Homo sapiens: one gene and its partners. The protein of the gene in region 1 interacts with the protein of each later gene in a pairwise test. Each region holds a gene or a part of one and is shown in the gene's direction. Other genes may lie near its edges. The genes, in order: CYTH1, CYTIP, ITSN1 and cystathionine beta-synthase.

Region 1 (7,595 bases):
TGTTTCGGGAAAAACTCTCAAACTATGGTCTGCTCTCACCTCACAACAATCTTCACAGAAGACTGCTCTGCCCAGAGGCGTGGGGGTTTATCCCCACACACCAAGCAGCAGACACTACCTGGGGGTCCTCTCATCCAGTCCAACTTGGACTCTTATCTGGAGTGAGGTCAGATCTCACAGGCTGAGGGCTCAGTCCCCAAGACTGCATTTGTGACAGCAGTCACAAGCCTGGGCCTCTGGAAGTTCTGAGCGACCACCTTAAACTTGGGATTTCTATGACCCCCGCTCTTTGGGTTTGATTAATTTGTTGGAGCCACTCACAGAACTTAGGGAAACACTTACATTTAGTATTTTGTTTGTTTTTAATTTTTTTGAGACGAAGTCTCGCTCTTGTCCCCCAGTGTGATGGCGCGATCTCAGCTCACTGCAACCTCCACCTCCCGGGTTCAAGCGATTCTCCTGCCTCAGCCCCCCGAGTAGCTGGGATTACAGGCACCCGCCACCAAGCCCGGCTAATTTTGGTATTTTTAGTAGAGACGGGGTTTCACTATGTTGGCCAGGCTGGTCTCGAACTCCTGACCTCAGGTGATACAACAGCCTCCCAAAGTGCTGGGATTATAGGCATGAGCCACCACGCCTGGCCATTTAGTGGTTTATTATAAAGGATATTGCAAAGGATAAAGATGAAGAGATGGGGAAGGGCCCTTGCACAGAGCTTCCAAGCCCTCCCTAGGCATCACCCTCCAGGAACCTCCACATGTTCAGCTATCCTAGCCCAGTCTTTTTTTTTTTTTTTTTTTAATGGAAATTTTTATGGAAGCTTCCTTCCATAGGGCACAGGGCAGGACCCTCTCTGGGGAGGGTCTTAAGACCCACAATCAGAAAGGTGGGCAAGATTAAAGTCCTGCCTTGGGGCAGGTGAAAGAACAAGAGAAGGCCAGAGAGATTGTTTCCTGAGGCCTAAACCAACATTATAACAAAAGACTGTAACAAGAGCTAAGGGAGGTATGTGCCAGGAACAGTGGAAAATACCAGAGGGTGGCCAGGAGCAGGCTCATGCCTGTAATCCTAGCACTTTGGGAGACTAAGGTGGGTGGATCACTTGAGCCCAGGATTTCACAACCAGCCTGGACAACATGGAAAGACCCTGTCTCTAAAATAAATAAATAAATAAAATATTAGCTGGGTGTGGTGGCGTGCAACTGTAGTCCCAGCTACTTGGGAGGCTGAAGTGGGAAGATCGATGGAGTCTGGGAGGTGGAGTCTGCAGTGAGCCATGAGCCACTGCACTCCAGCCTGGCCAACAGAGTGAGACCCTGTCTCAAAAACAAAACCAAACCAAAAACTGTCAAATACCGCAGGGAGCTACCAACTTAAAAAAATTAGTTGTCAAGTGGATCAACCACTAAGGACTTAGAAACCACAGCGAAACTTGCAGAGAGCCCACACCCAGTTTAAAGGTTCTGTGAAGAATTAGTGGATGTGGGGGAAGAGGTCTGGGTTAGAATCCACAGCTGGAGTGGAGTCCTGTGGTTCCTGTCTCCCTGCCGCCGGCTCCTTCTCATTACGCTCCAAGGGCTGGGGGCACAAATACAAGATACGAGAGTGAAACTGACTTAACTCCTGCTTGCAAGTAGGCTGCATTTGGATGTCTATTAGCCTCGGCTTCCAAATGTCATGCAAAGATAACAGCTAAAGGACCTCTCTGGCTGGGCGCAGTGGCTCACGCCTGTAATCCCAGTGCTTTGAGAGGCAGAGGTGGGCGGATCACCTGAGGTCAGGATGTCAAGACCAGCCTGGCCAACATGGCGAAACCCTGTCTCTACTAAAAACACAAAAATTAGCTGGGCTTGGTGGCACATGGTGGTAATCCCAGCTACGTGGAGGCTGCAGTGAGCCGAGATGTGCAACTGCACTCCAGCCTGGATGACACAGTAAGACCCTATCTCAAAAAAAAAAAAAAAAATCTCTGATCATGAATGTGATCTAATGGAGTAGCTTCTGTGTTTCTTTGACAGTCATCCATGGTCAGGGATAGCCCTACCCAGTGGACACATGCATGCATTCATTTGCAACCAGAACAAACACTGTCTCTGTATTATGTGTGATAGACTACAATTTTTTAAAAATTCTATTTTCTTTTCATCTAATAAGTATTTGTTTCATAACCATTAAGAGTCATGACCCGCTGTTTGAAAAACACTGTTCTTTTTTTTTTTTTTGGAAACAGGGTCTCACTCTGTCCCCCAGGCTGGAGCACAGTGGTGCAATCATAGCTTACTGAAGCCTCAACTTCCCAGGCCCAGAGGATCCCTCCCACTTCAGCTTCCAGAGTGGCTAGGACTACAGGCGTGTGCCGCTATGCTCGACAATTTTTAATTTTTTGTAGAGACAGGGTCTCTCTATGTTACTCGCGCTGGTCTTGAACTCCTGCCCTGAAGCAGTTTTCCTAGCTTGGCCTCCCAAAGTACTGGGGTTATAGGCATGAACCACTTCACCCAGCTGAAAAACACCAGTCTAATGGAACAATATAAGGGAACAGAATTTGTAAACAGTCATGTTCTCTGCTAATCTGTGATTAGCAGTAATACCAGTATCCCTCCCTCTCCAAATCTATTCAGTTGGTGAGTTCAGCTAAGAGGTCTAGAGTGCTGATAGTAAGAATTAACATGCCATCTGAATCGCTTTTCTTCTGGAGTTCTGGTCTTTGAGCAAGAGCTGAGGTGGTCTGGGACTTGCATACTGATAAGGGAAGAAAGCCAGCTCGAAGATACCTTGAACCTTCTGGTGAGTCTGGGGTTAGAAGTGAAGTAGGGAGTGAAACAGAGGATGGCAAATACTGGGGGAGAGGCTCAGTGCTCCATTAGCCCATGTGACAGATGGTTTGAGAAGATTTGCCAGGTCAATGTGGGGTCAATTCTAAAAGTGTCCTAAGTCTAGGCCAAGAGGAACAAAATGCAGCTGGGTCTCTGACCTCACACGCCGAAGCCCAAGGACACGTTAGGGCCAAAATGTGACTCTCTAAGGTCACCTGTAAAACTGGACAATCTGGTAAAGTCAGTGAAGGTTAAGATCATGAATCCAGCCAGGCGTGGTGGCTCACGCCTGTAATTCCAGTACTTTGGGAGGCCAAGGAAGGAGACCAAAGAGAAAGGATCACTTGAGCCTAGGAGTTCGAGACCAGCCTGGGCAACCTAGCAACCTCCGTCTCTACAAAAAATACAAAAATTAACCAGGTATGGTGGCCGGTGCCTGCAGTCTCAGCTACTCAGGAGGCTGAGGTGGGAGAACTGCTTGAGCCTGGGAAGCAGAGGTTGCAGGGAGTCATGATGGTGCCACCGTACTCTAGCCTGAGCAACACAGCGAGTGAGACTCTGTCTCAAAATGAATAAATAAATAAAAGAAAAAGAAAAATAGTAAAACTCAGGACAGGTGGGCCCACAAGGAAAGAGTTCTGTGGCTTTTACTCCCGTTTTTTGGTTGGTCCAAAAAATTCCCAGCAGTCCAGGGATCTCTGTGGAGTTCTCAGTGAGTGTTCTGTGTAGGGTGCAGGAGCCACAAGTGACTGCAGGGGGAAAGGGGGGTTCTGGTGCTGGCATTCTGCAGCAGTGGGATTGTCCTCTGTCATAAAGAAAGAGAAGGCCGAGCGCGGTGGCTCATACCTGTAATCCCAGCACTTTGGGAGGCCGAGGCAGGCGGATTATTTGAGGTCAGGAGTTCGAGACCAGCCTGGCCAACATGGCGAAACCCCGTCTCTACTAAAAATACAATTAGTCGGGCCTGGTGGCACATGCCTGTAATCACAGCTACTCAGGAGGCTGAGGCAGGACAATCGCTTGAACCCGGGAGGCGGAGGTTTCAGTGAGCCGAGATCGGGCCACTGCACTCCAGCCTGGGCAACAAGAGCGAAACTCGTCTCCAATAAATAAATAAAATCCAAAACGCTGGGACTTGAAGTGCCCTCCTTTCAATCTTGACCCAGGTAAAACTCAGGACAAATAAAAAGAAGTAGAAGCAGTAAACTTAGGACATACAGCATGTAAAGGTTCTGAACGCAGGAGTAAATGACTTCAAATAGCTTTTGTGGCCTTTCGCCAAGGACCGGGCCCTCCCTGGCAAGCTGGGGCCGGGTCTGACCTTCCAGGTTGGCGTCAGCAAGGACCACCCTGCCCTTCAGTGGCCGGACACGACCTTGGGCTTTCGTGCAGTAGCCTGGCTGCAGGCCAGGTCGAGTCCGCCACCCCGGGGACTTGCACCGCCCTTCAGAAACCGAAACCTGCTCGGCCCCAGGAGGCGGACCGGGAGAAGGGGGGGGGGTGTGTGTGTCTCGGGACGGGGGCGTGGTCTAGAGGCGGGGGCAGGGGAGGAGCCTCGGGTGGACGCGCGTGCGCAGGCCGGAGCCTCGGGAGGAGGCCGGGTACCCGGGGTGCGGCGCGCGCGGGAGGAAGGCGGGGCCTCGGGCGAGGGGCGGGGCCTCGGGCCGGGGGCAGGGGGCGGGCGCAGGCGCAGGCGCGGGCGGGCGGGGCGCGGGGCGCGGGGCGCCGGGGGCGGGGCTCCGAGCCGGGCTGAGGCGAGCGGGGGCGCGGGTGGCGCGGCGGGACGCGAGCGGCGAGCCGGAGCGCGGAGCCCGGCTCCCGCACCATGGAGGAGGACGACAGCTACGGTCAGTGCGCCCCGGCGGCGGACGCTTCCCCCTCGCTGTCCCCCAGTCCCCTCCGGGCCCGGCCGTCCGGCAGCGCTTGCGGCGGCTGGCGTTTCCCGGGGACACTGGTGCGGGACGCGGAGCCCGGGGCGACCGGCGGGCGAGCGGTGCGCGGGGCCCTCGCGGGGCGGGGGTCGCAGGGGGTTTTGAGGGATGAGGGTCGCCGGGGCCGGGGTCGCTGGCGGCGCTGAGGGATGTGGGTGGCTGGGGCGGGGGTCACAGGCCGGGCTCGCGGTCTCGCGGGGCCAGGGGTCGCCGCGAGCTCTGAGGAATGAGGGTCGTTGGGGTCGCGGGGCAGGATCTCAGGGGCTCTGAGGGATGAGAGTCGTTGGGGTCGCTGGGGTCCCCGGGGCAGGGGTCGCAGTCCGGGTCCCGGGGGGCCGAGGGGTGGAGGTCGCTGGCCCTGCCGCCCCTCTGCGGGGCTCGGGGCGGACGCGCGGATGGCCGGGCCCGCGTTCCCCGCAGTTTCCGGCCGCTCTCGGCGTCAGCGAGTTGTGCCCGGTCCACGTCTTTGTTCAGAAATGAGAACGGGGAGCGGCGCCGCCGGCGAGGCGCGGGCTCCGGGACGGCCCTGCCCGCGGGAGTCTGGGCCCGGTAGCCGCCGGTCCGGTGCGTCGCCGCCTGCCGAGACGCGGGTGTGGAGCCCGAGGGGCACCGCGGTGGGGACGCCGCTCCTCCCCTGACTGGGGACTTGGCAAGCGGAGCCGCTGTCCCGCTCCCTTCGCTCCCGCGCGTTGAGGCTGCTGGCCCAGGCCAGGGGTGCCTCCCTCCAAGAGTTTGAAATTGCAAGGGTTGCAAAAGGTTGTTTGACATGCTGTAGTTAATTTATTAAGTTTGTTCATGAGGAATTAAAAGGAAGAATGGCAAATAGAACAAGTGGTGAACTTTTGTGGTTTGGTAGCAAAGTACAAATAAAGCAGAACTCTGTGGCCAAATGGAACCCAATTCTAGTTTAATAACTAATGGGACATTTTTCTTTTTTTTTTTTTTTTAAGAGACGAGATCTCGCTCTGTCACCCAGGCTGGAGCACAGTGGCGTGATCGTAGCTCACGTCAGCCTCTTGAGTGGCTGGAACCATACGCACGCCACCATGCCCGGCTAATTTTTTATTTTATTTTATTTTATTATTTTATTTTATTTTATTTTATTTTTGAAACGGAGTCTCACTCTGTCGCCCAGGCTGTAGTGCAGTGGCGCCATCTCGGCTCACTGCAACCTCGGCCTCCTGGGTGAGCTGAGCGATTCTCCTGCCTCAGGCTCCTGAGTAGCTGGGACTACAGGCGCGTGCCACCACGCCTGTCTAATTGTTGTATTTTTAGTAGAGACAGGGTTTTGCCATGTTGGCCAGGCTGGTCTTGAACTTCTGACCTCAGGTGATCCACCCGCCTCGGCCTCCCAAAGTGCTGGGATTACAGGCATGAGCCACCGCGCCCAGCCCTAATTTTTTACTTTTTTAAAAGATGGGGTCTTGCCATGTTACCCAGGCTGGTCTTGAACTCCTAGACCCAAGCAGTCCTCCCACCTCTGCCTCGCACAGTGTTGGGATTACAGGCCTGAGCCACCACACCCAGCCCACTTGTTACCTTATAAGTAAACAAGTAAAAGCAGCTTGTGCATTTTTTTGTTGTTTGTTTTGTTGTGTTTTTGAGACAGGGTCTAGCTCTCTTGCGCAGGCTGGAGTGCAGGGGCGCTCTCATAGCTCACTGCACGCTCTGCTTCCTTGGCTCAAGCAATCCTCTCACCTCTCTTCTCAGCCCCTCCTGTAACCTGGACTACAGGCCTGGGCTACCACGCCCTGCTAATTATTTTTATTTCTTTTTGTAGAGAGGGAGGTCTCCCTATGTTGCCTAGGCTGGTGTGAACTCCAGTTCCTATCTTGGCCTCCCAAAGTGTTGGGATTACAGGCATGAGCCACTGCTCCCAGCCTCCTTTTGTGATTAAAAGAAAAATCACCCACTGGCTGGCCCCAAAAGATTGTTCAGCCCCTCCAGATTTCACTCCTGCCCACTGCTGAGAAGCCGACAGCAGTTTTGCCTGCTGCTCTTTTCTCTGCCTCCTCTTGCCATTTAATTTCCCTCAGATCCCAGTGTCCTGCCTACCAGGCTTTTGTGGCCTCTCTTGTGTTCTTGCCTGCTGCCGTGGGCAGGAAGCTATTGGTCTGGTTGCTTTTAATACAGTGACTGCTTTGCCACCAGGCATGACATGAACTTGTACTTGAAAGAGGTAAGTGGAAGCAGGGCGTGTTAGTTTCCTATACCTGTTATATTACCACAAGCCTGGTGGCTCAAAACAACATAACATTTGTTTTAGGGTTCTGCTGTCAGAAGTCCAAAATAGGTCTCACTGGGCTAAAGCCAAGGTGTCGGACAGGCTGGTTCTTTCTGGAGGCTCAGGGGAGAACCCATTTCCTTACCTTTTCCAGCTTCTAGAGGCCACCTGTGTTCCATGGTTCATAGTCCCCTTTCCATCTTCAAAGCCAGCAGGTAGCATCTTCTCATTTCTCTCGACCTCCTACCTCCCTCTTATTAAGATCCTTGTGATTATAGTGGGACCCACCTGGATAATCAAGGCTAAGGATTAGCAACCTTAATTCCATCTGTTACCTTAATTCCCCTTCTGCCATGTAAGGTAACCTATTCACAAGTTCTGGGGATTAGTACCCGGACTTCTTTAGGGGCTGTTATTCTGTCTGCCACACACGAAGATGAGAAAGTTTGTAAGTTTATTCTTCCCCTTTCTTTTTTTTTTTTTTTTTTTTTTTGAGATGGAGTTTCACTCTTGTTGCCCAGGCTGGAGTGCAATGGCGCAATCTCGGCTCACTGCAACCTCTGCCTCCCAGCTTCAAGCGATTCTCCTGCCTCAGCCTCCTGAGTAGCTGGGATTACAGGCATG
Region 2 (7,609 bases), on another chromosome or scaffold:
CACTGATCTAGATAATCTATTTAAAGCCCCAATTGAATTTAGTGGCTTAATCCCTTGAATGATATTGCAATCTACCCATAGCTTCATGATTTGATTGAATTAAACTTGAATAAATCAGAAAATTGTTTCCTTGCACTTGTATTAAAAACATAGTAGATTTGATGTATTGCTAGCTATTATTTATATTAGGTTTAAAGTTTTTCTTTGTGTTGTTTTAAATATGCATGTCACAACTCTAAGCCAATATTTGGCTTATATCACACTAGGATTTCTAATATAGGGTCTTTATGACCTTTGTTTCTGTTATTTTCCTTTCCTGAGCTGCCTATTTTTCAGGGCTTGTCCTAGTTACAAATTTTTAGTTTATCCTTTTCTGAAGAAGGCTATTACTCTCTGGGGAGTAGTGTTCATAATTCCAGTGATCCACACTGAGTTGGATGAGGACATCTGTCTACCCAGCTCCATCACTCAAATAAGGTGATACATAGGACAGAGCAGTTTTCACAGTTAGTGGATCCTCATATATGAGAGTAACTTTACTAAATCAAATTTACCTTATATAAATTCAAAGGCACAATATTCAAATATTGTCTATATGACTTTAACACATCTCCTACATCATTCCAGAGACCCAAATAAAAACTTCCCTTCCAAATGAAGGCAAAAGGCCAAAATAAAACAAATTAGCAAACCAAACCACAACAAAACAAAATCCTGTGATGTTCCAGGAAGCCAGATAAAATCTTCTTGTGCAAATAAAGGCAAATAGCAAAAATAAAACAAACAAAAAACTCAACAGCTATCTTAAGATCAGAAAGGCATAGAGGAAGTCTCATTTTTTAAGCAACCAGTTACTCTTCTTCTGTGTCTTACAATAATCCAGAAATTTCACACATTGGCTCTGATGATGGTTTTCAAACACATCTTGATATTCGATGGTAAGGAATTCACATGTATTGTGTAGCCTTTAGACTTCTTCAGGGTGACAAGGGCATCCTTGCTGCACATAGAGGCACTTAGTAATGAATAGGGCTATTCATATAGAATTCATGTTATATCCTTTTTTAGCTTTTCCTTTTGAAGGCTTGTTACTTAAAGCAAAATTCAGTAGATATAGCTTACTTTATACCATGTGCTATTCATGGGCTATTCTGTCTATTTTTTCCTGCAAATTTTTGTTTTAGATATGTGAACACTAAAGTTTAGAGAGTGTATTAGTCAGTTCAAGCCACCATAACCAATACCATAGCATAACAAATACCATAGACTGGGTGGCTTTAAACAATAGAAATTTATTTTCTCACAGTTTTAGATGCTGGGAAGTCCAAGATTGAGGTGCTGGCAGATTCAGTTCCTGGTGAGGGATCTCTTCCTGGCTTGCAGGAGGCTGCCTTCTTGCTGTGTCCTCATATGGTGGAGAGAGAGTCCTCTGCCACCTCTTCCTATGAGGGCACTAATCTTATCAGATCTGAGCCTTACCCTTATGACTTCGTTTAACCTTAAATGATTCATTAACCTCCTTATAGGCCCTATCTCTAAATACAGACACATTGAAGCTCAGGGCTTTAATGTATGAATTTTGGGGGGATACAACTCAGTCCATAGTCTTTAAAGCAGCAGAGCTAGGACTTGAATCTAAGTAGTGTGACACTGGAACCCTGTTGTCAACCCTCTTACAGCTGCCTAAGATTTTCATGGATGATTGTAAGGTTGGCTCAGTTTGTCTTGCAAACCTTTCCACCTTTCTTTCTCTGTTCCGTGCTTTAGGTATATTCCTCTCACCTGACTCTACCAAATCTCCATGTTGTAGGCCCTCAGTGTTCATCTCATTTGTACTAAAGATTAATTCCTTCCAAGGGTATTTGCATATTTATGAACAAAATGTTCCAAATAAGAGCTTTGCCCCACATAACAAATATTAGCTTTTAGAGCATAAAGGCAGATGAGACGTATTTTTAAGAGACTCTGTCCTCATCTCTCAGATCACCCCTTAGTGAAAATTGTAGCACTTTGGAATATGGGCTTGTAGTACATACATTTCCTACCAAATTAATTTTTTTCCTTATTAATACCACAGAACACTATTGTTTAATCATTTTGTTTAATATCTACCTTTCTCTTTTTATTAACATTTATTGAACAATTTTTGTATGTAGGACATAAAGTATACATTTAAAGATAAAAGATGTTCCTTGCTTTCAAGGAAATTGGACATTAGCAGAGAAACAGATTTGTATACAATTAACTATTGCCCTAACTAGAATATATTAAGTCTCAAAAGAAGAATCTAAAAAAATGATATGACATTTCAGAGAATGAAATCAGATAATATAAAATAATTTTTATTTTATTTTATTTTTTTGTGAACAGTGAGATACTCCTGAAATCTTTTGAGTACCTAGGTAGCTTGATCCAATTCATTTCCAGAATCACCTCTCTAAAATAAATGGGAGGCTGAAGGGGAAGAGAGTCTGGTCTATTATAATTTTCCTAAGGTAAATCCTAAAAGAAAAGAGATGTTCTAAACAGTAGAACACCTTTGTAAGTCAAGGATTTGTTGTTTGGAAGTCACATTCCCCTTAAAAGATTACTGTTTCTCCACCCTTTATCACAAGGGACACTTTTGATCATGATATTAGTGACTGGCATGACACAGGCACTGACAGAACAGGGAAATGACCAATAAAAATAGACTAGGTCAAAAATTTGTAATTAACAGGTGTGACCACATTGATATGGGCTGGCTGGATGTCAGAGGTACTTTTGACCCTTGTTTTGTATCCAGGTATCCCATTATTTGAAAAATTTTACTTAACACATTTCATGAGTTAAGTAATAAGTATTTTCCAGTTTCTTAATTGAATGATGATCTATGATTTACATCAGCTTAAGGTCAGTATTACAATGAATTGGTACAATTTTAGTAGTCATTTATAAAAATGGGTGAGTCAGTTGGCCTGAGTGGGTGGCCTTATATTAAGCAAATGTATAATTTCCATTTGGCATTTTAAAATATTAAGAATAAAAATTAAAAATATTTACCTAACTTTATCAGATTCCTAGGGTACAGTGGACTGCTGTCATCCATTAATAGTGATGATTTAATTTATGTGCCTCTTAGCCTGAAAATGTTTTTAAAATCAATCTCTCTCTCTGTCTTCCTAATACACACACACACACACACACACACACACACACACCCCACATATACCTGTATACATATCTGTACATATCTATAAATATAGATTTTACGTGAATATCTTTATAATTGATGTATTCTTTAGTTGCCAAGGTATTTACCACTCCCTTTTGCCTTACACATTTATGTTACTTACCTGGCTTCTGAAAACGTATGTGTTTTTAATTCCTGATTTAGACCGTTATATGTTTGTGGTGATATCACTTTGTCCATGTCAAAATTCAATTCCAGTATAATGAGTCATGCTGTGATAGAGTTTTTAAAATCTATAATTGGCTTCAACTTTTGAAGCACTATTAATTCAGATTTTACTATTTATATTTGGCAATTTCTACTTGAGTTGAATTCATCTTCACTTCCAGTACACACACATTTCATTTTAGTTCAAAGATTTGCTAACTCTTTCAAATGCTAGTATTGATCTTCAGAGATTTTAAAAAGCACATTTGACTTTTTGTGCCATATAAAACTTCTCTTTTTGACTTTTGTTTCGATTCTTCCTTTTACTTGCCTCCCCTACTCCTCCACTGAAACCAGTTCTCTCAAAACTACCTGCCCCCAACCTCAGCCAAAGGAAAAAAAAAAAAAGCATCTGTGATCTTGAGTACTTGGTGATGGTGCCCTTGACCCATATGCACATGCAGGGACCAACAGGCAATGTTCTTGGTGCCACCTTGGTTTGCCTGTTACCTTCCTGCCCACTCCTTTCCTCCCCTGGGACCACTTGCTGATGCTGCCGCAAAGTCTCGTCTAAGAAATGGCAACATTGTGCCCTAAATGTGCTGGCTTTCCCTTCCCATTGTACTTTGTAAAGATCATGGGTAATTTTTGTAAGGACAAAGTAGTAAAAGGACAACCAGAAGAATGCTGAATGGTTACAACCTCAGTGGCAGATATAATGTCTTTTTGATGAACATTAATGATCTAGGGTATACTTCAGGGAAAGTACAGTATTACAAGGACTTCGAGAGAGAACATTATGACCGGCACCTGTAATTCTTGCCCATATTCACAAGAACTGAATGTCCTCGTGTGCTGACTTCTGCATTGCATTGCTAATGTTAAGTAAGAGAATGGATGGGAAACAAATGGTAGCACTTGGGGACATTTTTCTTTCTTCTCTAAAGAAAAAAATGGCAAATGGTGGTGTGAATGCAACTTGCCACAGAACATAAAAGCGTAAGAATTCTGGCTGTTTGAGGTGAAAAAATAAGTTGATTTTTCTTTAAATTGTAAAAATTAGCTCCAGGTTCTCTCAGGAGCTTAAAGAAAAAAAGCTTTGAGAAATGGGAGTGAATAGCAAGATAGGGTTTGTGTAACAAGTTCCTCAAACCACAGAGGTCACATGGGCTCTTTCTGCTTTGCTACTTTTGATTACTTGTCACAGTTGTACTTTTAGCTTCCCCCATCCTGCAAGGCCACTCAACCATGTGCTAGCTGGAGTGATCTTTATTCACAATGTCTTTACAAAGGCTCCTGCAACACAGCAGCAATGGCAATTTGGCGGACTTCTGCGCTGGGCCAGCGTATAGCTCTTACTCCACACTCACCGGCAGCCTTACGATGGACGATAATAGAAGGATTCAAATGCTAGCAGACACGGTGGCTACTCTGCCTCGGGGACGAAAGCAGGTATGATTGCTATTTTGTACCCTTTAGAGTGTTCACATTCTCTTGAGGGCAGAGTGATATGTTTGTCTGACTTCATACTAATGGTGATATTTTAGAGGCTTTGGAATTACTGGCTGATTATTATGGGTGAAGGAGGTGAGATGCTCAGGGAGCTAGGTGAACCAGTCCAAAGATTTGAGACCACAATCAAACTTTTTTTTCAAGGCAAAAATTAAGATTGTTTTTCTTATTTGAAGAAGTGCTCAGGTAAAATAAACATCATTAAGCATAAAAAACTTGAAGATGGTTTATATAGATACAACCAGTATGAGAATTAATTCTCTTTTCCCCATTGTGTCTCCACTGATTCTTTCCCTTCCATCCTTACTTGCAGTCCTTGATGGTCATTTCAGTTCATAATCAAATAAGAAATACTTTTTCTGAGGACAAATTTTGTTGACTAATTATCTTCAGCTCTGGGTTGCTGGCACATACCTCAGGCTATTGGAAAGTAAGATTTTTTTTTTTTGGATAGATGAGTGCCAGATTGAATATCAGCTCACCACTTAGTGTCTGTGGGATCTTGAGCAAGCCACTTGCCTCTCTAAGCTTCAGTTTTGTTTTTTCTAAAATGGAGTTAATAATAGAACCACCCTTATTGGGTTCTTATGTTGGTTAAATAAGGAACTGTGCAGTGCCTAACACAGTGACTGGCATTCAGTGTGTGTTTATTAAATGCTAGATTATGCCATTTTAATATTTTTATTGCAAAGTTTGTCTCTAGGGATGAAAACTCATTTGGAAAAATCTATGTCTAACTGAATTTATTTTGATTTTTTCGTTCTTCAATTTCTAACATGTAAAAATTTTTTTTTAACCATAATACCTCTTCAGGATTTTTTTTAAACAACTTGCTCTAAATCCCCAGGTACATATTTGAATTTCGATGTAGCATTTCTACAGAAAATATTTAGAATTGCCCTAGAGCAAGAATTTTTGCGCTTAAGTCTTGCATGTACAATCATGTGCTTCTCGTAAGCCTTCTAAATTCAGGATTAGAGAGGTATGGCATAGTGGGAGAGACATGATCTTTTTTCAGTGATGTATAATAGCTGATTCCTTGGTATTTTTCGGAGTGAAGATAAGGGCACAATTTTCCATGATTTGGATTATTGATTGTTCTCAATCTAAAGTGCTTTTATGATACAAAGTTTAATGTAATGATGAACATTTTATCAATCTACAACCTGTCTGAAGATAAAGCAACATGAGAAATGCTGACATCTTTTTTCAGTTTTCAGATATAAAGCAGTCAGATTTTCTTTATATTTGCCATGACACTATCACACCAACTATGGTTCACTTGATTAGGCTATGATTTTTTTTTTTTTTTTTGCTGGAGACTGTGGGTACTTTTTCAATCAGGGTGGGAACTTTCCACCCTCTATGTCCTCCATACCTGCAACCTTACTCATTTGATCTACTCTCTAGCCCATGCAATTCAATGCAACAGATGGTTTCTGAGCACCTACAAGGAGACAGACATCATGCTAAGTGTAGGAGGTAAAAAGACGAGAAGGGAATGTTTCCTACCCATATACTGTTTACAATTCAGTAAGCAGAAAGAATGGGTTTTCTGCAAAGTAAAACAACATGAATACTCTCATCGAAGTGAAACATCTGTAAATATAGCCTTGGAAATAGATATTCGAGATATTGAAGGGTATTCCAGATATTGAAGGGTATTCCAGAGCAAGGGAGAAATTGAAGCTGAGGCATAGATCCTGGTGCCTGGAGGACTTTTTTGTGTAACAACACAATATTAAGTGTGTCAGGAGAACCTGGTTAGTGTGTAGGAGGTGAGAGGAGATCTCAGCGCTGGGCTGCTTTACAGAACACTTGGACAACTTCCCCTGAAAAAGCCGGCACGAGGGCCACTGAACGTGTTTGAGAAGTAGAGGATTTCAGGAACCTTATTGTAGAAATGTAGTGGATTAGTGAGTAGAGACTAGTGGTGAGGGAGGAACTTTTGCAGTAGTTGGAGAAAGAGGAAATGGGGGAACAGAAAGGAGACTGAAAGGCTTTAATATGAAAGGGACTGAAGACGGAGGAGTCACATCTGGTTTTAAGCCAGAGTGAAGATAGCGTGAACTGAAAGAAGGCAATCAGTAGGAGAGGCTGATTATCAGAGGAGGATAAAGAGAGGGATTTTGGCATATGAAATACACGTGTGTGTGTGTGTGTGTGTGTGTGTGTGTGTGTGTATGTGCATATATACATGTACACATATGCACACAGGCACACACACATCCCCATACTAATTAATTTATGCAGATGTTCTCATCTTTTCTAGGTCTTCTCATTCCCCTTCTCTCAAATTCTTTCATGTGGTAGACTTTCCATATTCAAACAGCTTTTTCTTACTGTTGTGAGAATTGCTTTAAAAAATAGCAAAACAAAACTTCTTGTACATGATAGTTCTGATTCCGTACAATTATCATCAATGAGACTTGATGCAAGTTTATCCCAACATTTCACAATCTTCCAAATGGATGTTCATTTCCTTTAACTGGTTTTTAGAGAATAATCACCCATTTGGCACTGACTAAATTGCAGGCAACAAGATCCTTGTGAGGCAATCACATGAGCAGGTGTTTCTCTGCCTACTGTTATTTTCAACACTTTCAGGGCTGACGTCAACAGCTCATACTTCTTGTTGTTGTTGGCTTTGGTTTCTGCAAAGCTATATCTGGTTAGCTTGTAGTTTCAAATTATTAGTCTTCAGAATCAATTGGGTGT
Region 3 (7,022 bases), on another chromosome or scaffold:
AGAAAAAAAAGGATAGAACTGAGTAATCATTCTAAATTTATAATTGATGTGTTAAAGAAGGAAACTGAATAATGGGTTAGAAAAAATTGTTGACTGACTGTGATCTCCATAGGGATCAGGGCACAGCTTGTTCTTCAGTGTGAAAAGCCGAATGCTCACCTTTCACTCTGCTTTGAGAAATCTTGTTAGAATAGAGGACTCATCAGCACGGTTACAAGGCAAAGGGAAGGAGGGAGAGAGACAGAGACTCATGGTCCAGAAGAGAGGGGGTTAATTCCTAGGGCAAGCTCATGGGAAGAAGGGAAAGGATGGAGTAACAGGGAAGGAAAGGAGTCTGGATGGTGATGTAGAACTGCTAGATAAGGATCTTTTAGAAACAGTGTTTGGCGTGGAGGAGAAGATATAAACAGAGAGGTTAGGCAAAGGGGGTTTTCGTTGTGCTCATTAACAAGGACACAGAAGCTTAGGGAGTTCTGGGTTTGGGTTTGTACTACAAATTTCAAATACATTGGTGAGTTTTCCTTTGAAAAGAGTCCGTTGAAAATCTTGAGTTTTCATAGTTGCTGTGTTCCTTGTCTGAAGTAACGTTTGAAGATAAGAAGCGGGAGAACTTTGAACGTGGCAACCTGGAACTGGAGAAACGAAGGCAAGCTCTCCTGGAACAGCAGCGCAAGGAGCAGGAGCGCCTGGCCCAGCTGGAGCGGGCGGAGCAGGAGAGGAAGGAGCGTGAGCGCCAGGAGCAAGAGCGCAAAAGACAACTGGAACTGGAGAAGCAACTGGAAAAGCAGCGGGAGCTAGAACGGCAGAGAGAGGAGGAGAGGAGGAAAGAAATTGAGAGGCGAGAGGTAAGCAGGCGAGAGTGGAGCCACCCGGAGTTAGTGTGCGATCACCCCTTTTCAGAATTATCCAAGTGATCTATTCACGCCATCTTTGTCTTTTTACAATTCAGTAGTTTTAGTATATTCCCAAAGTTGTGCAACCATCGTCCCTAATTCCAGAACATTTTCATCACTCCAGCTCTTTACCCATTAAGCAGCTACTCCCCATTTCTTTCTCCCTCCAGCTCCTATCATTAATTTTACTTTCTATCTTTCTAGATTTACTTATTCAGGACATTTTTTATAAATGGAATCATCAATATATGGACTTTTGTTTCTGGCTTTCATTTAGCATAATGTTTTCAAGGTTCATCCACATTGTAAAATGAATCAGTCCTTTATTCCTGTTTATGGCTGAGTAATATTTCGTTATATGGGTATACCACATTTTTTAATTCATTCAGCAGTTGATGGTCATTGTGGCTATTATAAACAATGATGTTATGAACATTAATGTACAAGTTTTTGATGATACAATTTTGTAACAAACCACTGATACCAGTAAAGTGTTTTTCCAGACTGTTTTCTCTGTATACACCTATATAAAAATATAAAGGTTTATATGGCGGAGAGTGTAAGGGCTGTATAATTTTTTAAAAACCACTGTAATAGTATCATACCAATTACATTGTTCTGCAATCTTCTTTTTTTTTTTTTTTTTTGTTTGAGACAGAGTCTCGCTCTGTCACTTCCAGGCTGGAATGCAGTGGCATGATCTCAGCTCACTGCAACCTCTGCCTCCTGGGTTCAAGCGATTCTCCTGCCTCAGTCTCCTGAGTAGCTGGGATTACAGGTGCCCGCCACCACGCCCAGCTAATATTTTGTATTTTTAGTAGAGATGAGGTTTCACCATGTTGGTCAGGCTGATCTCGAGCTCCTGACCTCGGGTGATCCACCCGCCTCAGCCTCCCAAAGTGCTGGGATTACAGGCATGAGCCACCGCGCCTGGCCCATGCAACCTTCTTTTTAAACTCTTTTAAAAATATGTCTGGGACATCCTCCCTATATTCTATGGAAGGCTTCGTAAATTTAGCGCCATACCTGGAAAGGGGCTAAGCAAATCTTGTCTCTCTTTCCAATTTTAGTACATTACTGCAGAAGCAACACATGGTTCTTTCATGTGAATGAAAGATAAAAATGAGGAATTTTTCGATGTAAAAAAATAGCCTGAGTGCTGTGCCTCAAGCCTGTAATCCCAGCACTTTGGGAGGCTAAGGAGGGATGATCACTTGAGGCCAGTAGTTGGAGGCCACTGCATTCCAGCCTAGGTGACAGAGCAAGAACCTGTCTCAAAAAAAGAAAGAAACAAAACTTATAGCCATAACTCCTTTTTTTTTTTTTGAGACAGACTCTCGCTCTGTTGCCCAGGCTGGAGTGCAGTGGCACGATCTCAGTTCACTGCAGCCTTCACCTCCTGGGTTCAAGTGATTCACCTGCCTCAGCCTCCGGAGTAGCTGGGATTACAGGCGTGAGCCACCATGCCTGGCTGATTTTTGTATTTTTAGTAGAGACAGGGTTTCGCCATGTTGCCCAGGCTGGTCTCGAACTCCTGACCTCAGGTGATCCGCCTGCCTCGGCCTACCAAAGTGCTAGGATTACAAGCGTGAGCCACTGCGCCCGGCCCCGTAACTCCTTTTTGTTCAGACAGACACTAACAAAATTTTAATTTTCAGAATGAACAAAGATAGGCAAACTTTTCTTCAACGTACCAAAAAAATGATATTCTAGAGTATTTATTCAGAATTATTTAATAGACATTTACCATGTATCAGGTGTAGTTGGATGACCCATGAGTCAGAGGCAATTCCCATAGACTGTCAGATGCTCTGATATGTACTCTATCTAGCAGTCGTCAGAGCCAGTCGTTGGAGGGAGCAAAAGCTTTTGTGGTAAAAAGGAAATGAATGATTAGGAAGTGGGGAGTCGCAGACTTTTAAAACGAGTTAAGTAATAATTTCTCTTTTGGTGGAGTAAAATCAACTCTTGTTTGTTTTTGTTCAGGGGTGTTTTAGTTTGATTTTACTACATAAATTTTCCTTCTTGGCGTGTCAGTAAATAAGAAGGAGCATTTTTAGTTAGCACATCAAGCATTCTTGAAGGCATAAAGAATGGAATTCTAATGGGGAAATAATCCTGTCATCTTACGTAAATATAGTATTATGTAAATATAATACCCAGTTCTGTGTATTCCCTTTATTCCCATAGAAGGAATACTGTATTTTTATGTAATTTTTTGTTTTCTAATGTGATTTCTTGTAATGTTTAATATTTCATCCCTAAAAGGAAAGACTTCCTAGATGCCATTTTTGTGAAAAGACATTGTGTAGTGTAAGAACTGAAAAATTAGTAATTTGTCTCTGTAAATGTCACAGGCTGCAAAACGGGAACTTGAAAGGCAACGACAACTTGAGTGGGAACGGAATCGAAGGCAAGAACTACTAAATCAAAGAAACAAAGAACAAGAGGACATAGTTGTACTGAAAGCAAAGAAAAAGACTTTGGAATTTGAATTAGAAGCTCTAGTGAGTGAAGTTTGGTTATACTTTGAAAATATACTAAGATGGAACCATTAAAAACAGTAATAATTTTTATTATCTTTCATTTGTTCAAGAATGATAAAAAGCATCAACTAGAAGGGAAACTTCAAGATATCAGATGTCGATTGACCACCCAAAGGCAAGAAATTGAGAGCACAAACAAATCTAGAGAGTTGAGAATTGCCGAAATCACCCATCTACAGCAACAATTACAGGTGAGGAAATATGCCTCTTAAAAGCTATTATATTAAACTGGCATCCTTTTCTCTAATTCATTTCATTTACTTACTTATTCAGTAAACATTAAGCAACTGTCTTGTACTAGGCACTGGGAAGCAAAAATGAAGTAGACAGGGTCCTTGTGTGAAAAGTAGCCTGTCAAGGAGACAAACTCAGCAAATATTTACTGAGCACTGCTTCGGGCCAGGTGCTTTTGCAGTTTCTGAGGCTACAGCAGGGACAGACACTCTGTCTTCTGGGAGCTTACCCTCTGTTTGCAGGAGGAACAGAGACTAACAAAATAAAGTGTGTACTGTATTAGAAGATGAAAAGTGCTATGGAGAGTGAGTAGGGAAGGGAATAGAGAGTCCTAGGGATAGGAAATGTTGTGATTTTAACTAAGGTAGCCAAGACAGGTCTTTCTGGATGGTGACATTTGAGCAGAGACTTGAAATTAATGACAGGCTAAGCCATGTGGGTATCTGGCAGAGCAAGATCTAGGCAGGGAAATAGTGCCAAAGTCCTGAGGTCGTAGCAGGACTCTGAGATGCCAGTTACAGCAAGGAGACTACTGGGTAGAGCAGGTGGGAGCTGGATCACACAGAACCTGTAGTCCACCAACAGGACTTTGGCTTTACTGTGGTAATTACAATAAATAAGTACACTTAAGTATTTTAGGGGGTCATATGAGAGCTATATGTATACTAAATAGTTGGAGACATACAGAGCACTTTTAGTAGTTCTGTCTTCATTTTAAAGCCTATCCAAAGTTGTTATAATATCACCTGGTTTGGTATCAAGTGCTGAACTACAGGGGCATCAAATTCATGTAAATATTGCCTGTGGATGATCATATTTGCCTGTGATTCCTTTATGTTAGGCTTTTTCTCAGCATGATGTTTTTGAGATGTGTCCATGTTACTGAGTGAATGACTCTTTTGTTTCTTTTCATCACTGAGTAGTGTTTCCTTATGTGTCCATTCACCTACTGGTTGATATTCAGGTTCTTTCCAGTGTGGAACTTTTATGAATAAAACTGCAGTGAGCATTTATGTACAAGTCTTTATGTGGAAATGGTTTATTTCTCTTGGGTAAACTTTTAGGAATGGAACTACTGTGTCATGTAAGTGTATATTTAACCCCATAAGAAACTGTCAGGCTGGGCACAGTGGGTCACACCTGTAAACCCAATACTTTGAGAGGGCAAGGTAAGAGGATTGCTTGAGCTCAGGAGTTTGAGACCAGCCTGGGAAACATAGCAAGACCCCATCTCTAAAAAAAAAAAAAAAAAACTTAAAAATTAGCTGGCATGGGGGCGTTCACCTGTAGTACCTGCCTGAGGCAGGAAGACCACTTGAGCCCACGATATCGAGGCTGCAGTGAGCTATGATTGAGCCACTGACTGCCTGGGCCACAGAATGAGACCCTGTTCAAAAAAAAAAAAAAAAAGAGAGAGAAAAGAGAAAGGAAAGAAAGAGAACTGACAAACTGCAAAGAGTTTGTACCATTTTACATTCTGATCATTTAATTTGTATTTCCCTGAAGGCTAATGATGTTGGGAATCATCTTACATGTTTATTGGCGAGTATTTTTTACTGTGCATCTTCGTTGAAGTGTCTGAACAAATCTTTTGCCCATTTTTTATTGGGCTGTTTGTCTTACTATTTACTTGTAAAAGTTCTTTTTATATTCTTAACAAGTCCTTTGTCAGATACGTGTTTTGCAAATATTTTCTCCCAATCTGGCTTGGGTTTAATTTTTGTTAGTGGTATTTTTTAAAGGGCAGAAGTTTTAAATTTTGATGAAGTTCAGTTTACCGTTTTTTTTCTTTTGGTGTTCATGCTTTTTATGTTCTATCTGAGAAATCTTTGACTACCCCATGACTGCAAATATTTTATTTTCTTCTAGAAGTTTTTGGGGCTTAAAAAAATAATTTTTACAAGTTTTTATAAATTGAAAAAAACTTAAAATTTTAAGTTTCATAGTTGTATCTTATATGTTTAGGTCTATGAGCTATTTCAAGTTGATTTTTGCAGATAGTATAAGGTAAAGGTTGAGGTTTATATTTTTACATACTGATACACAGTTGTTATAGCACCATTTATTAAAAACACTGGCTTTTTTCCCATTGAGTTACCTTGGTAGCTTGTTGAAAATCAGTTGAACATATTTGTAATGGTCTATTCTGGACTCTATTCTGTTCTTTTGATCTGTCTGTCCTTTACCAGTACCTCACCCTGTTGATACCTAATTTTTGAAGTCAAGTGATACGAATTCTCTGTTATTGTTCTTTTTAGAATTGTTTTTGGTTATTCCAGGTCCTTAACATTTCCATGTACATTTTAGAATCAGCTTATCAGTTTTTACAAAAATGCTTGGAATTTTGTTGGAATTCCATTGAATTTATAAATCAATTTGGGAAGATTTGACATCTCAGCAATAGTAAATCTATGGCATAAATCTCTATTTTGGTAGTTATAAATTTCTCTCAGCAATGTTTTGTAGTTTGCAGTGTCCAAGTCTTGTAGATACTTTGTAAAGTTTATCCCTAAGTATTTTGTGGCTTTTGATGCTATTGTATATTGCATATTTTTATTTTAGTTTCCAGTTGTTTGGTGCCAGTATATGGAAATAGAATTTATTTTTGTATATTGACCTTATATCTGTGATTGCTTAACTAACTTCCTTTGTGTGTCTTACTTTGTTGACCAGAACCTCCCATACTATATTGGATAGAAGTGGGAAGAGCCTTGTTCCCTCTCGATGAAGGAAAGCTCTCTCACCATAGAGTATAGTGTTAACCAGGGTTCTTGTAAACACCTTTTATCAGGTTGATGGACTTCTCCTTTTGCTGAGGGTTTTTATGATGAATGGGTGTTGAAATAGATCATATGTTTTTTCCCCGCATCTATTGAGATAAGTATGTGTTTTTTCTTTCTTATTTTGTTAATATGATGAAGTACATGGTTGCCATTTGAATGTTAAATCAGCCTTCCATTCTTGGGATAAACCACTCTTGGTCATGGTATATTACCCTTTATTAAAATATTTCACTACATTCCATTTCCCATTATTTTATTAAGGATCTTTTTAAATCTGTTGAATTCAATTCAACAGAGATATTGGTTTTTAGTGTTCTTCTAATATTCTTGTCTAGTTTTGATATCAGGGTAATGCTGGCCTCAGAAAATGAGTTGGAAAATATTCCTTCCTCCTCTATTTTCTAAAAGTGTTTGTGTTGAAATAGCATTTCTTCTTTAAATTTTGGTGGCATTCACCAGTGAAGGCCTCTGGGCCTGGAGCTTTCTTGAAGACTTAATTATAAAATTCATTATGCAGATATAGGGCTATTCTGATTTTCTTCTTCTCCTTGAATCTGTTTTGATTA
Region 4 (7,022 bases), on another chromosome or scaffold:
CTCTATGAATTTGCCAGACATAGAGGGGCGTTCGAGAGTCCCAGGTGCCTCATCGTGGAAGTGGAATCACACAGTATTTGTCCTTTTGTGTCTGGCTCATTTCGCTTGGCATAATGTCCTGAAGGTTCGTCCGTGTTGTAGCGTGTGCCAGAATTCATTTCTCTTAGGGCTGAGTAATATTCTAGTGTGTGTATGAGCCTACTGTGTGTGTTCATCCGTCTGCGGATACGTGGGCTGCCTCCACGTTTTGACTTGTGAATAGTGCAGCAGTGAGCATGGGTGTGCAAGCATCTGTTTTGTTGTTGTTGTTTTATTTTTTAAATAGAGATGGGGCTGGAGCCCAGGCTGGTCTTGACCTCGTGGACTCAAGTGGTCCTCCTGCCTCAGCCTCCCGAAGTGCTGGGATGAGAGGCGTGAGCCACCGCACCCGGCCCAAGCAACTGTCTGCTTCCATTTTTTTTGGTATATGCCTATAGGAGAGAAATGGCCAAGCGGCTGCCCACAGGGCTGGTGCCTGTGTTTTTGTGCAGTTCTTCCTGGGCTTCTCTGAGGGAGCAGAGCACGCCTCCCAGAGGGGGCCGGGTCAGCAGGGTTCGCTGGAACCCCACAGCATCCGAGCCTGAACCGACGCCTCTCTCCTTGCTTTGCCAGGTCCCAGCATGCCTTCTGAGACCCCCCAGGCAGAAGTGGGGCCCACAGGCTGCCCCCACCGCTCAGGGCCACACTCGGCGAAGGGGAGCCTGGAGAAGGGGTCCCCAGAGGATAAGGAAGCCAAGGAGCCCCTGTGGATCCGGCCCGATGCTCCGAGCAGGTGCACCTGGCAGCTGGGCCGGCCTGCCTCCGAGTCCCCACATCACCACACTGCCCCGTAAGTCCTGCTTTTGATCACAAGAGGGCTGATCCATAACCTGGAGGGCAGGAGTTTGTTACCTGGACACCACACAGCCAGGAGGACATGAGGTGTAACCCCCTGTAGTCACTCTGGATTGAGGAGCTGGGGGTGGGGCCATGCCGTGTAGATGAGGCTCTGAGAGGCCAAGGCCTCCTTACGCTGCAGCCCAGCGCCTAGGCCAGTGCCTGGCAAGACAGTGGATGCTCAGCAAGTAGTTCCAGAATAAATAAATAAATGTGCCCAGGTCACATGCTTTGCCCGGTCTGTGGCTGCGTGTGCACATTCACTGGAGGTGAGGGACCAGGATCCTGCCTGCGCTCTCTTATTTATTTATTTTTTATTTTTTTGAGACACGAGCTGGAGTGCAGTGGTGCAATCATGGCTTACTGCAGCCTCAATCTCCCCCAGTTAAGGGATCCTCCCACCTCAGCCTCCCAAGTAGCTGGGACTATGGGTGCCCACCATCACACCCAGCTGATTTTTGTATTTTTAGGAGATGGGGTTTCACCCAGGCTGGTCTTGAATGCCTAGGTTCAAGTGATCCGCCTGCCTTGGCCTCCCACAAGTGTTGGGATTACAGGTGTGAGCCACCGCGCCCGGCCCAGCCTGCACTTTTCCGTTAACTCTAGGTCATGAAGACTTCCCGTAGGCATTACATATTTTTCCATAAGGGCTGTTTTTCTGGTGGCACAGACTGTTCGGTGAAGAAGCCATCATTTTGTAAGCCCTCTACGGGGTAGATAGATGTTTGCAGTTACCTCATTTTACATAACTGCAATAGAAGATACGACACATTCATTTAGCCAACAAGTCTTTCCTCAGCGCCATGTGCATTTCGTGCCCTGCTCAAGGCGCAGAAGATCTATCAGTGGAAAAGACAAATCAACAAAAATCCCTACCCCAGCATGAAACTGAAATCAAGCTCACTAAGCCTTAGGATTATCTTTATTTCCTTAGTGTAATCTTGGAGGAGAACAAATAGATCAAAGAATGTGCTTCTTAGATGTTTGATTCCTTTTTTTTTTTTTTTTTTTTTTGAGACAGAGTCTCGCTGTCACCCAGGCTGGAGTGCAGTGGCGCGATCTCAGCTCACTGCAACTTCTGCCTCCCGGGAAGCGATTCTCCTACCTCAGCCTCCCTAGTAGCTGGGATTACAGGCATGTGCCAGCACGCCCGGTGGATTTTTATGCTTTTAATAGAGATGGGGTTTCACCATGTTGTCCAGGCTGGTCTTGAACTCCTGACCTCAGTTGATCCACTCGCCTCGGCCTCCCAAAGTGCTGGGATTATGATTCCTATTTTGTGTCCACCACTACCAGCGTTTATGGTTGTTGATTTACAGTTCAGAATGGGTGGGGGTGGCTGGGTGTACTCTCAGTGCAGCAATAGAAAGAAAGAAGTGACAGTGGACAAACCCAGAAGGTCTGAGTGTCAAACATACTCAGTGCTGGGAGCTCAGGAGGCCAAGCAGATGTGTGGGCAGCCAGGAGGATGGGCTCTTGCTGCCAAGACAAACCCAAGAGAGCAGTGGGTGAGAGGCCCGGTGAGGTCGGGAGTGGCTGCTGGAGGGTGGAGTGGGCAGGGAAGACAGGCCCGATTCCTGAGGGCTCCGTGAGCTCCTAACTCTAGGGCATGAGAAGGAGACGATGCCCTCCAGGTTGTAAATGGCGTTGCACCTGCACCTCACATACTGGCCTCATTCATCCTCCGAAGACACCCCCATCCTGAGACGCAGAGCCGACGCCGCTTGTCTCCAGTCGGAGGGCCCCTGAGAATAGTGGCGTTGCGGGGAGGTGCTGCAGAGGTGGGTCAGGAGTTGGAGGTTCATTCTAGGACAGTGGCGTGTCCTCCCAGGAGACTCTTGGGCTGTGGAAGTGGGAGTCCTTGAGATAAGGGGCTCCAGGGCTATCCCTGCAAGTCACATCCTTTTTCTTGCTAAGCGCTCTGGGCCTGGCCCTGATCACCTCTGCAAACTTCTCAGGTAACTTCACAGCCACCGAGGCCCAGTGCTGAGTCAGCACACCTGCTGCAGGGAGGCGGGACTCTTCCCGCCTGGCTGGCCAGATGCCCGAACTGAATTAATGAACTAATCCCCGGCGCTGTCACCCTGGGGCTTGGCTTTCCACCTGGCCCTGGCTCTCTACACCTGCCAAGCCTGGTTCCCTTCTGCCGAGAACTGCTTCTGAGGGAACCTCCCTGGCCCCTGTACAGTTTGGGGACCTGGCAGGACTGCCTTCTGCTCCCCGGGAAGGGTGCGATTGGATTCCAGCTGCTCTTGTTGGCGCCTGTTTTGGCCTTCAGGGTAGCTCTCCCTGCAAATGTGGCACTCCCTCCATGGCACAGGACCTCTGGGAGCTGGGTTCACCCCAGGTCTAAGGGTCGCCTCCTGGGGGGCAGGACCCAAGGACCCTGGCTGTTCAGCAGGTGACTGTGCTGAAGAGGGGGCCCAGGGTTAGCCACGGGGTGTCATCGGAGCTGCAAGGCCCAGGGAGGGGTTGCGGGTCTGGAGACCGCTGTAAGCCATGCGTGTTCCCAGATGAGTATGTGGTGAGCTTGGTGCAGATAGATAGGGGGTGTCATCAGCATCTCCCTGGGGGAGGATGGCAGGGGCATGAGGGCCATTTAGGAAACCACCTGGACCAGGGTTTGAGGGTTTACACAGCCAGATGCTGCAGGGCAGGGCATCACGAGCCTGGCCGACAGCGCCTCTGCCGGGGCTCTGAGTCTGCCACGTGCCTGACATTTTCTGTGCAGGGCTAGACATCCCGCCTGCGCTTTGCAGCCATTGTCCCTGGTCTAAGGAGTCTCTGCCCTGACACTTTTTTGCTTCCTATGGTCACATGCTGAGAGATGAAAGGAAATGTCATCTCCAGTAAAGCCTTTCTGAAAAGGTGGACCTAAACCTTTGTTTTGGAGTCAGTATTTGCTTATTTTAACTTTTTTATTTGGAAATAATTTACTACTCACAATAAGTGGCAAAAATAATAGATCCTTTGTACCCTTCTCCCAGCTTCCCACTAACAACATCTGCCACGACTGTAGGTTCATTTTCAAACCTGGGAAGCTGGCATTGGTGCAAATAAACCACAGGCATGATTTGCTTTTTATAGATTTGTATGTCTAAGCATGTGTGTGTATGTGTGTTTCAGGCGTGTGTGTGGGATGTGTGTTAGGTGTATCTGTGTACAGATTTGTGTAACCACCACCCAGATAAAGCCAGTTCTTTTTTTTTTTTTTTTTTTTTTTCCAGTTCTTCGAGTGTTGATTTGTGTAAGACAATGTCTGCCAGGGCTGGTACTATTTTTTTTTTTTTTTCCTGAATAATTGTGGACTCCTCTGTTTCAGGGCAAAATCTCCAAAAATCTTGCCAGATATTCTGAAGAAAATCGGGGACACCCCTATGGTCAGAATCAACAAGATTGGGAAGAAGTTCGGCCTGAAGTGTGAGCTCTGTGAGTGCCCTGGCTTTGGAGAGGGGCTTCCTCCATCTACACTGGGCTCCGTGGGCCTGGGGGGTCCTGGGGGGTCCTGGGATGGATCCCTTAGGCAAGGCCCTGGGATCAGAAAACTCGCTGGTTAATGAGTGGCCAAGAACATATCAGCTTAAGTTTGGGAAAAACACACAACAGGGCATTGTGTCAGAGGGTGACCAAAGTGACTCCCCAGCAGATGGACAAGGGAACGAACAGGTGACCTTTGAACTGAGGCCGGAGTGGAAGCAGCGAGGGTGTGAAGGGCCGGGTGAGGGTCAAAGGCAGAAGCAAGCAGGTGGGGAGGGTTAGCGTCATGCCTGCTAAGGAGCAGTGGACGGGTCCTAGCACGTGCTGTGAGCCACCCGCTGTCCAGGGAGCGGTTACCTCTGTCTTGCCAGCTTCGTGGGGACAGATAGTTCAGCTCATCATTTATGAGACAGAGAATGGGAATTTGGAGGGTCTGTGGCTGGCCTCGTCCTGGGTGCGCAGGGGGTCACCTGAGGTGTGGTCTGAGGCCTCCGGGGAAGGGCATTTCTTTGCAGGACGCAGTTTCCAGGCTCAAGAGCGTGGAGGGAATTCCTAAGGGTCGCTCTTCACCAAGAGCGCAGAGCCCTGGTAGACCTCAGCATCGTCACAGAGAAAGCTGTGGGTGCAGAGGCCTTGGGGACAAGGCGGGGACGGAATTTCGTATTTCAGATGACCAAGGTCAAGTGAGTTCGGAGGGAGGCAGGAAGGGTGCCGCGGAGAACCCCGCGACAGGGCCAGATGGAGGGGGTGGAGTTCGAGTGGGAAGGAGAGGGAACCAGTAACATGGCTTGGGACTTTTTCATCCTGAGATGCTCTAATGTCCCAGCCGGGGGACCTGTGAGAGCTGGGGCAGGCGCTGGGGGAAGGAAGTCAGGGGTCGGTGCGTTGGGAACCGATCGCCGATTCACAGGAGGGGCCTCGTGGGAGCCTGGCCCTCCTCTGCCCCCCTCTAGGGAAGGAGATCTCGGAGCTGCAGCAGAGCAGCCCCCTTCACAGAGACCCCCAAGGCAGCAGGGCCGGCTCTGTGCTCATTTGTCAGACAATAGGGACCCTTAACTCGTACGCAGCACGCGTGGCTGGCTCACTGTGCTCCGTACAGGATGACGTCTAAACTTGGCGGTTGCCCTTGAAGTAGGTTTTGGAATGCCCGTTTTACAGACAGACACACCGAGGGTCAGGTTGGTCACGTGGCTTGCCGGAGGCCACCAGCTCTGATTTCTGCTTCGGAGCTGGCCCCCAGGCGCTAGTGAGAATGATCTAACTGAGGGTTTCACAGTATGGGACCCAGAGGGGTCCGAGAATGCAGGCCTGTAGAGGGCCAGACCCCGAGAGTCCTCCCCACCACACACAGCGCCTCGTCCTGGTTCTAGGGGCAACACCTGTCTGGTGGTTGCTTTCAGAAATTTTGAGGTGCTGCAGGCTGGTCCCAGGTCCCTCAAATCACATTTCATGCAGCCCATTCTCTCGCTCTTAAAAACTAAATATTTTTAAGAGCTGGAGAGGGAGAGAGGACTTGCAGTAAGGAAGGAAGTGCAAGTGAAGGCCTTGGCCTTGTGCGGGAACTGCGCAGGGAGCCCTTCCCCGGGCAGGTGACGCCCCACAGGGGAAGGAGGACAATGGGAGGCTGTAGGGAGAGTATGCGAGTCCCCATCCGATGGGGAAGCCAGTGCTGTGGCTTCAGGACATCAAGCTGCTTTGGCAGGGGCCGCTGGGTATGGCTGGGCATAGGGGCGTAGGGGACCCAAATCCAGGCGCCTGCCCGCCACAAGCCCAGCTCGTGGGTGGGGGGACGGGGTTTTCTGCGGCGCCCCCCAGTGAGGGCTGCTTATGCCTCTCTGGTTCCCACAGAGTTGCTCAGCGCCCTGCAGGACCGGTAGGATGGGCTGCAGGGGGAGAAGCTCTGATAGGCTAGTGCCCAGGTGCAGGTGTAGGGGAGGTGAGTGGAGAGGTGGCAATTTTTCAGAACCCACAGACCCCCAAGCCCGTCCCCCACCCTGGGGTGTATCAGGTAATGGGGGGGTGAGCAGGAATCAATGGGGGGGTGGTCAGGGGGTCCCCTCTGTGATTCATCTCTGCCTCCCAGTGGCCAAGTGTGAGTTCTTCAACGCGGGCGGGAGCGTGAAGGACCGCATCAGCCTGCGGATGATTGAGGATGCTGAGCGCGACGGGACGCTGAAGCCCGGGGACACGATTATCGAGCCGACATCCGGGAACACCGGTGGGTGCCAGGCCCAGAGGGGGTGGCCGGGGCTGGCTGTCCCCTACCCATGCCGAGCCTGCCGGGACCCGGGGGGGATGGATGAGCTGCAGCCGCATGTGCTGGCCCGCCTGGCCGCCTGCTCCCTGGCATCTTGCACCCGCTGCCGGCCTGTGTCCCAACCTAGCTTCCTTTGACCAGCATTCGGGGCCAGTGCCGATGCTCTCGGGGCGATGGCACCTGGCAGTGCCTGGCACACAAGACGAGCACCCGGAGTCTGCTCTTCCTGTGCCTGTGTACCCGGCTGGGCCTGGAGGAACCAGATCTCCTGTCCTGCGCCGCTGCCTCCTCCTCCTTGACGTGTACCTTTTATTTCTGCCTCTGGCAGCCTCTCTCCCCCTGCACTTGAAGGCAGAAGCAGCCATGTTGGGCA

The links.
Region 2: the proteins of CYTH1 (region 1) and CYTIP interact in binary tests that used the Homo sapiens proteins (3 or more experiments, as listed by UniProt).
Region 3: the proteins of CYTH1 (region 1) and ITSN1 interact in a two-hybrid assay, tested with the Homo sapiens proteins (2 studies listed by BioGRID and IntAct).
Region 4: the proteins of CYTH1 (region 1) and cystathionine beta-synthase interact in binary tests that used the Homo sapiens proteins (3 or more experiments, as listed by UniProt).

What each region holds. Positions count from the first base shown.
Region 1 is NC_000017.11:78,779,270-78,786,864, reverse strand, and holds the start of CYTH1 (cytohesin-1), read left to right. Parts: upstream 1-4,591; 5' UTR 4,592-4,641; coding exon 4,642-4,663; exon of another isoform or gene 4,664-4,809; intron 4,810-7,595. UniProt on the Homo sapiens protein: Promotes guanine-nucleotide exchange on ARF1, ARF5 and ARF6. Promotes the activation of ARF factors through replacement of GDP with GTP.
Region 2 is NC_000002.12:157,441,069-157,448,677, reverse strand, and holds the start of CYTIP (cytohesin-interacting protein), read left to right. Parts: upstream 1-4,588; 5' UTR 4,589-4,657; coding exon 4,658-4,831; intron 4,832-7,586; exon of another isoform or gene 7,587-7,609. UniProt on the Homo sapiens protein: By its binding to cytohesin-1 (CYTH1), it modifies activation of ARFs by CYTH1 and its precise function may be to sequester CYTH1 in the cytoplasm.
Region 3 is NC_000021.9:33,771,479-33,778,500, forward strand, and holds part of ITSN1 (intersectin-1), read left to right. Parts: intron 1-582; coding exon 583-845; intron 846-3,250; coding exon 3,251-3,400; intron 3,401-3,489; coding exon 3,490-3,630; intron 3,631-7,022. UniProt on the Homo sapiens protein: Adapter protein that provides a link between the endocytic membrane traffic and the actin assembly machinery. Acts as a guanine nucleotide exchange factor (GEF) for CDC42, and thereby stimulates actin nucleation mediated by WASL and the ARP2/3 complex.
Region 4 is NC_000021.9:6,457,509-6,464,530, reverse strand, and holds part of cystathionine beta-synthase, read left to right. Parts: intron 1-651; 5' UTR 652-659; coding exon 660-868; intron 869-4,237; coding exon 4,238-4,344; intron 4,345-4,498; exon of another isoform or gene 4,499-4,796; coding exon of another isoform or gene 4,797-5,075; intron 5,076-6,240; coding exon of another isoform or gene 6,241-6,328; intron 6,329-6,475; coding exon 6,476-6,610; intron 6,611-7,022. UniProt on the Homo sapiens protein: Hydro-lyase catalyzing the first step of the transsulfuration pathway, where the hydroxyl group of L-serine is displaced by L-homocysteine in a beta-replacement reaction to form L-cystathionine, the precursor of L-cysteine.